Linked DNA regions of Homo sapiens: region 2 is linked to region 1. The links come from fine-mapping of genetic effects on gene expression. A gene starts in region 1. The other region holds a variant in brackets. All regions are shown on one strand. Distances are between the middles of the regions.

Region 1 (5,527 bases):
TCAGACCTGGATTCAAATCATGGATCCATTACCAGCTGTAGGAACTTAATCTTACTGTTAAGAAGCTTTCCTTATCTATAAAAATTAGACAAGAATACCTACCTTACAGGGTATCTTCTGGATTATCTATTCAATAGGGTAAGAACACCTTACAGGGTTGTTCAGGATTAAAGGTCCGGACAGTAGTCAATACATGTTTTCCTTTCCTCACTCTCTCTTCTATGCCTTTGCATAGGAAAGAGGAAACTGAGCACCTACTTGCAACTATTTTGAAGCTTAAATGAGGTAATACAAAGGGCCTAGACAATGCCTGGCATTACAATAAGTGCATAATAAAAGCATTATTATTCTCATCTCATACGTCTTTCCTTCTTGCTCACTGTGGCTCCTGGCCCATCTCCTTTCTGCTCCTTGAAGGTGCCAATAAAAGTTGAAAGAAACAGTTCATTCAGGACATTGTAGAAAAATGGTGATGATTCGATTTCATCCCAAGACAATCAGAATGTGCCTGGAACACAGTAGGCATTCAGTAGCTAAGTTGTTAAATTACTATATGACAGGGCCCAAGGTCTATGTGTTACCCTAACCCTAACTCGGTTAATCTACATAACCTGTGAGATGTTCTACTCTTCATCTGGGAAGCATGCTCCAGATCACACATCCAGTAATGGTGGAATCAAGATATGAGGTCAGCACCTGTCACTGAGGTCTATCTGAAGCTACTTAATGACTATACTGCCTCTGAATTTAGTCAAAGTCCCTACATCAATTGTCATTAAATACCATTTATGGCTGTCTAATGCTCTGAACCCAGCATACCTTCCTAACCTAGTTTCCTAATGGCCCCTTAGGAGTTAACAGGCCCACTGCAAACACCACATATTGATAAATAACTGCAATGTGCTGTAGTATATCTGGAACCCCTGTCATTCCCAAAAGAGGTACTTTCTGTACCTTCCAATGTTCCTCCTCCTCCATCCACTTAGAATGCCATCCATCTTTGTGATTATAAAAACGACATCACGTTTTCTTAGTACTAAACTTTGCCCGTGGAAAGTCTCCCATTCTTCAAGGCTGGGCTCAAATTCCACATCCTTCTCGAGGCCTTCCCCGTGATTCCTCCCTCCATAAACTTAACAATCCATTTTCCTGAACCCCATCACATCTGTTTGCAGTTCACCCGCAAGCAGGCGCTTTATATTCTTTAGCACGCCACCTGGTATCTCAAAGAGTCTTTGTGCACAACAACCATTGCCTGAATAAACAAGAAAAAGGAACTGTAGGTAGGAGCTTGGTGAGACAAGTAAAGAAGATGGAGAGTGATTAAGGATAATGGAGTAAAAATATCACAAAGGGTTCTCAAAAAGCAGGGAGTGAAAAATGAGTACTAAACAGGCTCTTCGAGAAAAGTTTTTTCTTGGGCTGCCTTTGTGCAGCCTAGGGGCAGCTCACCTGAACCAGAAGTCCCAGCCAGCCTCTTCCGGGGTCTCGACATGGTCACGCTGCAGGGGACTTTAGTGCGGACGATTCTGGAATCAACGGAGATACAAGAAAGAATGCTAATGTCCTCCAAAACCCGCGCAGAGCGAGATGGAGGCAACGAGAGGCAGCCTAGAACGTCTCCAACTTTTGCGAAACACAGACGCCTACGTTTGAGCCCTCAAATCCTTCCCTCCGTTATCTGCGCCATTTCCATCTCGCATAACCTGCCCCTAAACTCTTCTCGGTTCTGTCCTTGGTCCTTCTCATCCAGGAACCCCTATCTCAGTATGTAGTTCACTGGGAAGTGGCTCCACAGAGACACTTTTGTTGGGTGAATATAAGTAAGCCTTGTGTTACCTTGTTATCCTTGCTAATTAGGATCAACTGAATGGATAATCTAGATGATGAAGTAATTTGCTGGCTACAGACCCAACACTCTGCAGACTCGACTGCGGTCCGCCTCCGCTGCGCCGCAGGCTGTGCAGCGCGACCCCCGCGGCGCTTGGTGGGCGGTGCATCTCTGCGGCGCCGAGGCCCCGAGGACTTCTGGGAATTGTAGTCCTGTCCCCTTGGGAGCCCGCCTGGCACCTGGGTTGTTAGGGCTCGTGGGAGGACTACAACCCCCAGGGTGCAGTGGGACAGGCGTTGCCGGGTCGCAGGTCCCGCCAGTGCGAGCGCAACGGAGGTCGAAGGCGTTCAGACTCTTAGCTGAACGCGGAGCTGCGGCGGCTATGCTGTGGAGCGGCTGCCGGCGTTTCGGGGCGCGCCTCGGCTGCCTGCCCGGCGGTCTCCGGGTCCTCGTCCAGACCGGCCACCGGAGCTTGACCTCCTGCATCGACCGTAAGGATCTCCTGGCGGGCAGTAGGACAGGTGTCCAGAACCCCGGCGGACATATGTCCGCGAGGGGCTGCAGTCTCCCCGTTCCATCCAGTCACCCCGGCGTCAGCTCCCCTTCCGGCCAGTCACCCCCCCGGCCTGGCTCCCTACTCCGGCCGGTCACCCCCGGCCTGGCTGCCCCCTCCGGTCGGTCACCACCATCCGGGTCCCCATCTGGCCCGTCACCCCTGCCCGGGTCCTCCTCCGGCCGGTCACCCCCGCCCCGGTCCTCCTCCGGCCGGTCACCCCCGCCCCGGTCCTCCTCCGGCCGGTCACCCCCCGCAGGTTCCCCTCCGGCCGGTCATCCCCCCGCAGGTTCCCCTCCGGCCCGGGTCCTCCTGCGGCCGGTCACCCTCGGATGCTTAGAGAAGTGAAGAAACTTGGGGCTTGGTTGTTGTTGGGTTGGTTGGTTTTTAATCATAACAGTAGGTCATAAAAGCAGTGAGAATATAAGAAGCTGGCTGGGTGCTGATGGTGACAACTGCACAAGAACTCCAGGTCATACAAGATTTGCTCACACACAAAGATTTGGTATCTTAACACCTCTGGCTATAAGACACTTTTAGTGTTGAAACTCATGCAGGAAAAATAATTATTATTGCCAGTGGGAAACTCTACCAGAGCTGACAAACTTGAGTGTCTTTAGGCTCTGAACAGTAATTTGAATGTAGCGAGGAGTGGTGGAGACCCGGCCAGTTTGTGACTTCTCTGCCAAGAATGTTTATAAACACTTTTTTCTTCTGAAATATTTTTAAATTTATTTTAAATAAATGGCAGTTTTCTTTACAACAGAATAAGTCCCTTAGATATCAGATCTATAAAGTACAGTAAGGCATAGAATACTGTTTTCTTCTGAATGTCCTAAAACTCATTCAAGAGGTGCTGCCCTGGCCTAGCGCTTAGAATTTGATAACCCAGATTACCCTGGTTGATACCGAAGCAGATAAGGAATTATTTAGAGGTGGGTTTTGTTATTGTTTGCATCTTGCTTACACTTGAGTGGCTCTGCAGTCAAAGGCTTTTCCCATTTCATTTGGAGTGTTTTTCTATTTAGCTTTACCTTTTTAGTGTATATGTATTGGCATCTTGAGCTCTGCTAGTAACTATGTATTGGCATCTTGAACTCTGCTAGTAACTGGCAAAGTTCATGAGTGGTGGTATTTGTTTTGTTTTTATACTGTATTTCCTTCTGGGAACTTGTGTTTACTTATGCATATGATTTGCATAAAACTATTTCCTTCCATTAGAATGCAACTCAGATTTATTTCTTAAGCCTGTGGTTCCTTGAACTATTTGTTTTAGGAAGTAGCCATTTACAGAAGAAGAAGATTTGTTAACATTTAATGAGCTCTTGCTAGGATTGAAATAGTCATCCTTTGTGTGAATGGATCTTATTTATTTATTTTTTTGAGATGGAGTCTCTTTCTGTTGCCCAGGCTGGAGTACAGTGGTGCGATCTCAACTCACCGCAACCTCTGCCCCACGGGTTCAAGCAATTCTTGTGCCTCAGCCTCCCAAGTAGCTGGGATTACAGCACATGCCACCATGCCCAGCTAATTTTTATATTTTTAGTAGAGACGGGGTTTCACCATGTTGGACAAGCTGGACTTGAACTCCTGACCTCAAGTGATCCACCTGCCTTGGCCTCCCCAAAGTCTGGGATTACAGGCATGAGCCACTGCGCCTGGCTGGATCATATTTATTTTTGTAACCCCAGCACTGCTACCTAGTAAACACCCAATAAACATTCTTTTGGAAATGATCTTTGAGCCATGGTCTACAGTAACAGCAACCCTTGTACAAAATTGTGTGAATAAATGGCCTGACCCCAGTCAGAGAACCATGAATTGTTTATCCCTAACTCTGTTCCTGAGGGTAATACCCAACATAGGTTTCTGCTCTGAGTTTCTCAAGGCAGCCTAATCGTTAATCCTCAGAACTCTTCATTTCTGACTTTCCCATTTTAATGAGAGTACTGATCACAGAAAGCAGTGCCCTCTCCAGGCTCGCATAGCCAGCCATTACTGATGCCCAGATTTGCCCCAAGGAACAGACTCTGGCACCTGCCCTTGTGTTCTTCTGTGAGGACTGCATCGCTTGTAGGCACTGAAGTAAATTATTGCCAAGTGTGGCGCCATAGTCTTCCCATAGTGCTCTTTTTTCTTTTTTTCTTCTTTTGAAACAGAGTCTTGCTCTGTCACCCAGGCTAGAGTGCAATGGCACAATCTCAGCTCACTGCAACCTCTGCCTCCTGGGTTCAAGCGATTCTCCTGTCTCACCCTCCCAAAGTAGCTGGGATTACAGGCATGCGCCACCACACCCAGCTAATTTTTGTATTTTTAGTAGAGGCGGGGTTTTTCCATGTTGGTCAGGCTGGTCTTGAGCTCCTGACCTCAGGTGATCTGCCCGCCTCGGCCTCCTGAAGTGCTGGGATTATAGGCGTGAACCATCACGCCCAGCCCATAGTGCTCTTCAGTGTCAGTTATAATGACCAAAGTTCTAGCACTGTGGCCTCAACCTCTAGGTCTACAACTGCATTTTACTAAGTGCTAGGATAAGAGATGTCTGGAAGTCCCCTATCCTGTTCTAGGTTGATCTGGATGTGTGCTAGAACTGTCCTTTCTCCATATGACAAGTGGAATAACGACAGAAGCTGCCATTCTCTAGCTGTTAAAGGCTATACCGTGTATGGGAAATACTACAGTAGATCCACTTTCACAACTTCGTGGTGCTTCTTGTTGGCAACACCTTGTTGGCAACACTGACCCTGTCCTAGAACAGTATATGCAATCCTGCCCACAGCTTCCATGGGACTTAATGAAGAGCAGAAAGAATTTCAAAAAGTGGCCTTTGACTTTGCTGCCCGAGAGATGGCTCCAAATATGGCAGAGTGGGACCAGAAGGTAGGCGTTTTTCTTGTGCTTAGACGTTCTAACAACAGATGTCTCAGGCAGACCTTTATCTTTGTCTCCTGATAATGTAATTGTTAAATGTCTCCTCCACTTACCAACTCTTACTGCAAGTGAGAATACCGGTAGTGGATGATTTTTCCTAGAAGGCATCCTGATCATCTTGTACATAACTTTTTTTTTGTTAGTTGAATAAAGATTTGGATATAAAACTAAGGCAGTTCTATAGATAATAAAAAGAAACTTCTTAATGCCAGAAC
Region 2 (5,000 bases), 24 kb before region 1:
ACTGCTTGCTGTTCCTGCCCCACCTGATTTCTTGTCTATCTCCTTACTCCTGAGACATCCATCATCCCTGCTGAATTTTCTCAGAACCTTTTGTTGCTTCCACTAGTAACTCTTCCCGGGCCCTTGGCCACCCTGCACTGAGTTGACCATGAGACTGGGGGAATTTAGCCACTCTCTGGGCCTCGGCTTTCTCAGCTACCAAGCAAGGAAAATAACATCACTTGGTGAGAATGTTGGGCATGCCAGGGGATCATGCATGACCCTTATAGAGGGTTCCTTTATAAAATTATGGTAGTTGTAGTAAAATGTTTCCATTTCACAAATTGAGTTATCACCCACTGGCTTGCTGCTCTTCCTCCTGTACCTGTTTTACCTGAAGAAGATCGCCCTGTCTACTGATAAGGAGTGCATGTTTCAACCCTTTGCCTTAAATTTCTTACTTTGGCCACATGGGCCAGTCTCAGTTGGTGTTGTAGATGGAGCCAGTCCCAGCTTTGTGCTGAAGTATATTGTTCACGCTCAATTATCCATGGTTACGTGAGGACATGGAAGTAGAATAACACAGAATGATGGACAATATGTTTCTGATTATTTGGCTTTGGGATGTATTTCTTGATCAAGAACAAGGCATTAGAATAACCTTTGTAGTTCTATTTGATGTAAAAGGGAGTTTGTGTTCCTGAAATACACACATGGACAGGGAGTAAAGATGTACTATTTGGAAGTCTATTTGGAGGCACAGAGTGACTTTTCTTAGACAACATGTTTCTTATTATTTGGCTTTGGGATGTATTTCTTGATCAAGAACAAGGCATTAGAATAACCTTTGTAGTTCTATTCGATGTAAAAGGGAGTTTGTGTTCCTGAAATACACACATGGACAGGGAGTAAAGATGTACTATTTGGAAGTCTATTTGGAGGCACAGAGTGACTTTTCTTAGACAATATGTTTCTTATTATTTGGCTTTGGGATGTATTTCTTGATCAAGAACAAGGCATTAGAATAACCTTTGTAGTTCTATTCGATGTAAAAGGGAGTTTGTGTTCCTGAAATACACACATTGACAGGGAGTGAAGATGTACTATTTGGAAGTCTATTTGGAGGCACAGAGTGACTTTTCTTAAACTCTTATATTCCTCCTATTTTATCTTCCTGGTTCCCCGAAAGAAGCATGTTGTGAAGTATTTGTGTCATACACCTGTGTCAGTCATTGTAAACTGAGCTTGGGGCACCAGAGCGAGGCTAGTGAGTGAGTTTGCTGAAGCTGCGGTCGTGTGGTTTTCTCCTTCATTGCATTCTTTGACTATGTGTGAGATGGGTGGAACTTCAGTCTGTTCTGAGGTCTGGCTGACGGGGTGGCATATGGCAGTAATCAAGTTGATAGCACTGAGCTCTGTCCCTCTTCCTTGTTAATTTGGAGGCAGGCAGGCAGAGGTGTCACTTTTATCCTGTCACTTGCTGTGGCAATCTCATCTGCACCGATGACTTATTTTCTTTGTTTTTTATTTAAAAAATTTTTTGAGACATGGTCTCACTCCGTCACCCAGGCTAGAGTGCAGTGCCACGATCACAGCTCACTGCAGCCTCAACCCCCTGGGCTCAAGCAATCCTCCCATCTCTGCCTCCCAAGTAGCTGAGACTACAGGTGCATGCCACCATACCCAGCTAATTTTTTAAATTTTATGTAGAGACAGGGTCTGTCTTTATTGCCCAGGCTGGTCTGGAACTCAAGCGATCCTCCTGCCTTGGCCTCCCAGAGTGCTGGGATTACATACATGAGTCACTGTGCTGAGCCCCATGAATTATATTCTGATGACTCCCAGACTGTTTCTTTGTTCTGACCCGACCTCTCTTCTGAGTTTCACACGTCTTTGAAGCTGTCTGCTAGACATGTCCACCGGGATACCCTACAGGTGCCTCAGTAATGCATGCAAACACAAACCCCTCTCTCTGTCTCTGCTTCAGCCACAGCCCCACTGCGTCTCCTTTTTTCCCCATTTCGGCCTATGTCAGCTGGGATCATTTAGCCTCAGAAATCTAGAAGTCATTTTGAAGTCTTGGCTCCTCCTCCCACACATGCAGTTGGCTGCTAAGTTTTGGCCTTCTCTGCTGGTTCTGCAGTATATCTCAAACCAGTGTCTCCTCTCTCTTCTCAATGCCACTGCCTTTTATTTTCTGTTTGTAGCAGCTTCCTAAGTGGTCTTCCTGCCTTTGTCTTCCTCCCCTTTCAGGTCATTTTCTGTGAGGATGAAGTTTCTTAAAGGCAGTTCTATCATTGTCAGTCCTTTCTTAAAATTCTCGCCTCCCTATTGGTTAATGGGGGAAAGTATATCCAAATCCCTCCTGCTCTGGCCCTCCCTCTCTTTCCAGCCTCGTCTCCCCTAACCCTTCACTCTCACCGCTTGTGGGTTCCACAAACTATCCTTTTCTTCTGGAATCTTGGTATTTTCCCTTTGTATAGTAACATCTTTCTGCAAGATATAACCTTCCACCCAAGCTCTTACTCCTTCAAAGCCTAGCTAACATCACATCCATCAGAAAGTCTTCTCTGACTTCCCCAGGCTGACTTAAGTGCTTCCTCCACTGTTCTTCCAGAGGCCTCATTAATACCTCTTTTCAAGCCGGGTATGACAAGCTTGTGACTTTTTTAAAAAACTTGTCTGTCTTTCTTACTAATTTCTGAGCACCTGAGATCCAGGGACTGCCTTCAGCCCATCATTAGTGCAGTGGCTAGCACATAGAAGGTGCCTAGTAAATATTTGTTGAATGGATATATTGGTCAAATCTAAGAATTTACAGAAACTATTCTTTGTTGTTGTTTTGTTTCATTTTGTTTTCTTTCCTTTTCCCACATCTCCTCCCAGATAAGCAAGAGTTGTTTTAATGAAAGAAAGACAGAAATCAGGTTTGTTTTGGTGGTTGAGCAGCTGAGCTTCCTGCCTTTGTTGTGGAGGAGGCATTGATGAGCAACATGTGGTTGTCCATCAAGGCCACTGACAACTCGGTGACTCTCCAGCTGGTGTGCCCCCACTGGGGCTGCGTCCTCACTGGGGGAACTGGGATAAGGAAGTATTAAA[G/A]CTGATGTCAGTTTACCTGCCTTTACATCTTTCTTTCCTCACACTCTTCTGTGCCAAGTTGAAACTGATATCCCCTTGTGTGTAAGAACGTAAGAGTTGTCAAACCTCTGGCCCGTTTGGTCCTGCACCACTGCTCAGATGTGGCAGTTTGAACGTTGCCTCCTGAGACTATAATATCTTATTTATTCACTTATGTGGTGGACGTTTTTCTGTTATCCTCTGCAAGTTTTCGAGCCACACTGGGATCCTTCCTGTACCTAGGATACTTTTCCAGTGGCTTGGTCTGTGTTCTAACAATGCCAACACATGTGGTGAGGGCATCTCTTGGGTCAGGCCCATGGGACAGAAAGGTCTAAGACCTAGTCATCCTACTGGCCCACGTCTTTAGGAAGATGCAGTAGTCTGTAAGGAGCACTGCAAGGAAAAACTGTAACTGTGAGAAGAAGAGACCGTTGTTGAGCTGGAATCCTTTGGGGAACACCAGTGAAGTTTAGAAAGCAGACCTGGGCCGCCTTGGAGACTAATGGGTTAAATAAACCAAACGTAATTAGAAGGTCAGACATGCGGAGGAGGGCAGACAGGAACATCCCTGCACTCCAAAGCCAACAGACATTATCTGGATTTTTTTTTTTTTTTAGGTTTTAATAAGCCCATTAATACCAATCAAGCCCATACTTTTAAAAACTCCAGGGGCTTTCTGTATTTTAATTCATTAGCCCTTGAAACACTAAGTAAAAGGCACATTAAGATGAGGTGGATTGATTCTGGCCTACTTAACAAGCTGCTGGTGGGACTGGAGCAGAGCTGCGCCTGGTGAGGCGTGGGCCGCTCAGAGGTGCCAGTGCTTCTGGGTTTCACAGGGTTGGCAGACAGGAGTAGGGTGTGGTAAGCACGAATCCTGACAGTGGCCAGCCAGCAGACAGTGGCTGGGAGGGTCAGATGAAGAGGAGGCTCTTTGGAGGGCTTTTTTTTTTTTTTGAGACGGAGTCTTGCTCTGTCGCCCAGGATAGAGTGCAATGGCACAATCTCAGCTCACTGCAACCTCTGCCTCCCGGATTCAAGCAATTCTCCTGCCTCAGCCTCCCGAGTAGCTGGGATTACAGATGCCCACCACCTCGTCTGGCTAATCTGTGTATTTTTAGTAGTGACAGGGTTTCACCGTCTTGGCCAGGCTGGTCTCAAACTCCTGACCTCGTGATCCACCCGCCTTGGCCTCCCAAAGTGCTGGGATTACAGGCATGAACCACTACGCCTGGCCTTTGGAGGTCTTTTTATGCTTTGCTGACTTAGGTTTCTTCCAAAACTGCACGAGGCCTAGACTAAACATGGCCTTAGCCAAGCAGCAAAGCTCAGGGCGGCTGTCATGGGTGACCTGTGATGCAAAGCTGGCTCAGTTTCCTTCCAGAATGGCAAATTCACTTCTCAACTGTTGGTGGCAAGTTTCACCATGAAAACATCCTGAGTACAAAAGTTATTTCCTCCTGTTGGACTGAGAAGGAAACCAAAGACAGGATAGTTACCTTAACCAAAAACTTACTCAGTTCCTACTTCTAGCCTGACACGTCTGGTCCCTGAGGACTGGTGATTGGGAAGAATGAAAGATGACGCGTGGTTGCTTCTTTGGGACGGAATAGAGGCTATTTACAATCTCTTTAGGGCCCAGACCTCTCGTGAGAACAGCCTTGGATTTTTGTTTTAATTTATGCAAGAGGAAACCAAACTTTCTGGCAAATAGGAAGCATCGCTGTGTCTGCCCCTTTGCCCCACAGTGTTTGCAGAAGTATTGCAGATGGCTTATAAAGGATAGATTAAAAAGGCCAGGCCAGCCCTGCTGTGACTGCACACTGGCCACTCTTCCATGACATTTGATGTCAGAGCTGATATTAACATGTGTGCAGGAGGAAAGGCACTAGGGAGAACGT

Alleles and levels. Positions count from the first base shown, and alleles are read on the strand shown. Sizes are in standard deviations (SD) of each study's normalised expression.
For the expression in monocytes after LPS of the gene that starts at base 2,181 in region 1, G is the low allele of the variant in region 2 and A is the other (large effect, 0.75 SD a copy in Kim-Hellmuth 2017).

The links. PIP is the estimated chance that this variant, and not a neighbour inherited with it, causes the effect. A credible set is the group of variants that fine-mapping cannot tell apart.
Region 2: its variant is the best candidate, but not a certain one, in a credible set for the expression of ACAD8 in monocytes after LPS (Kim-Hellmuth 2017, PIP 0.51).

The regions. Positions count from the first base shown.
Region 1 is chr11:134,251,388-134,256,914 of GRCh38, forward strand. ACAD8 (acyl-CoA dehydrogenase family member 8) reads left to right here and starts at 2,181. Exons shown (of 11, transcript NM_014384.3): 1 at 2,181-2,322; 2 at 5,161-5,261. The coding sequence starts at 2,214. THYN1 (thymocyte nuclear protein 1) reads right to left here and starts at 1,965. Exons shown (of 7, transcript NM_014174.3): 1 at 1,453-1,965. The coding sequence starts at 1,495. RefSeq lists an enhancer at 1,726-2,095.
Region 2 is chr11:134,227,527-134,232,526 of GRCh38, forward strand. The region is part of intron 1 of VPS26B (VPS26 retromer complex component B); the gene reads left to right. Among named protein-coding and RNA genes, the nearest start is that of VPS26B, 5.4 kb to the left of the region's middle. The variant G/A (reference allele first, on the strand shown) is at 3,079.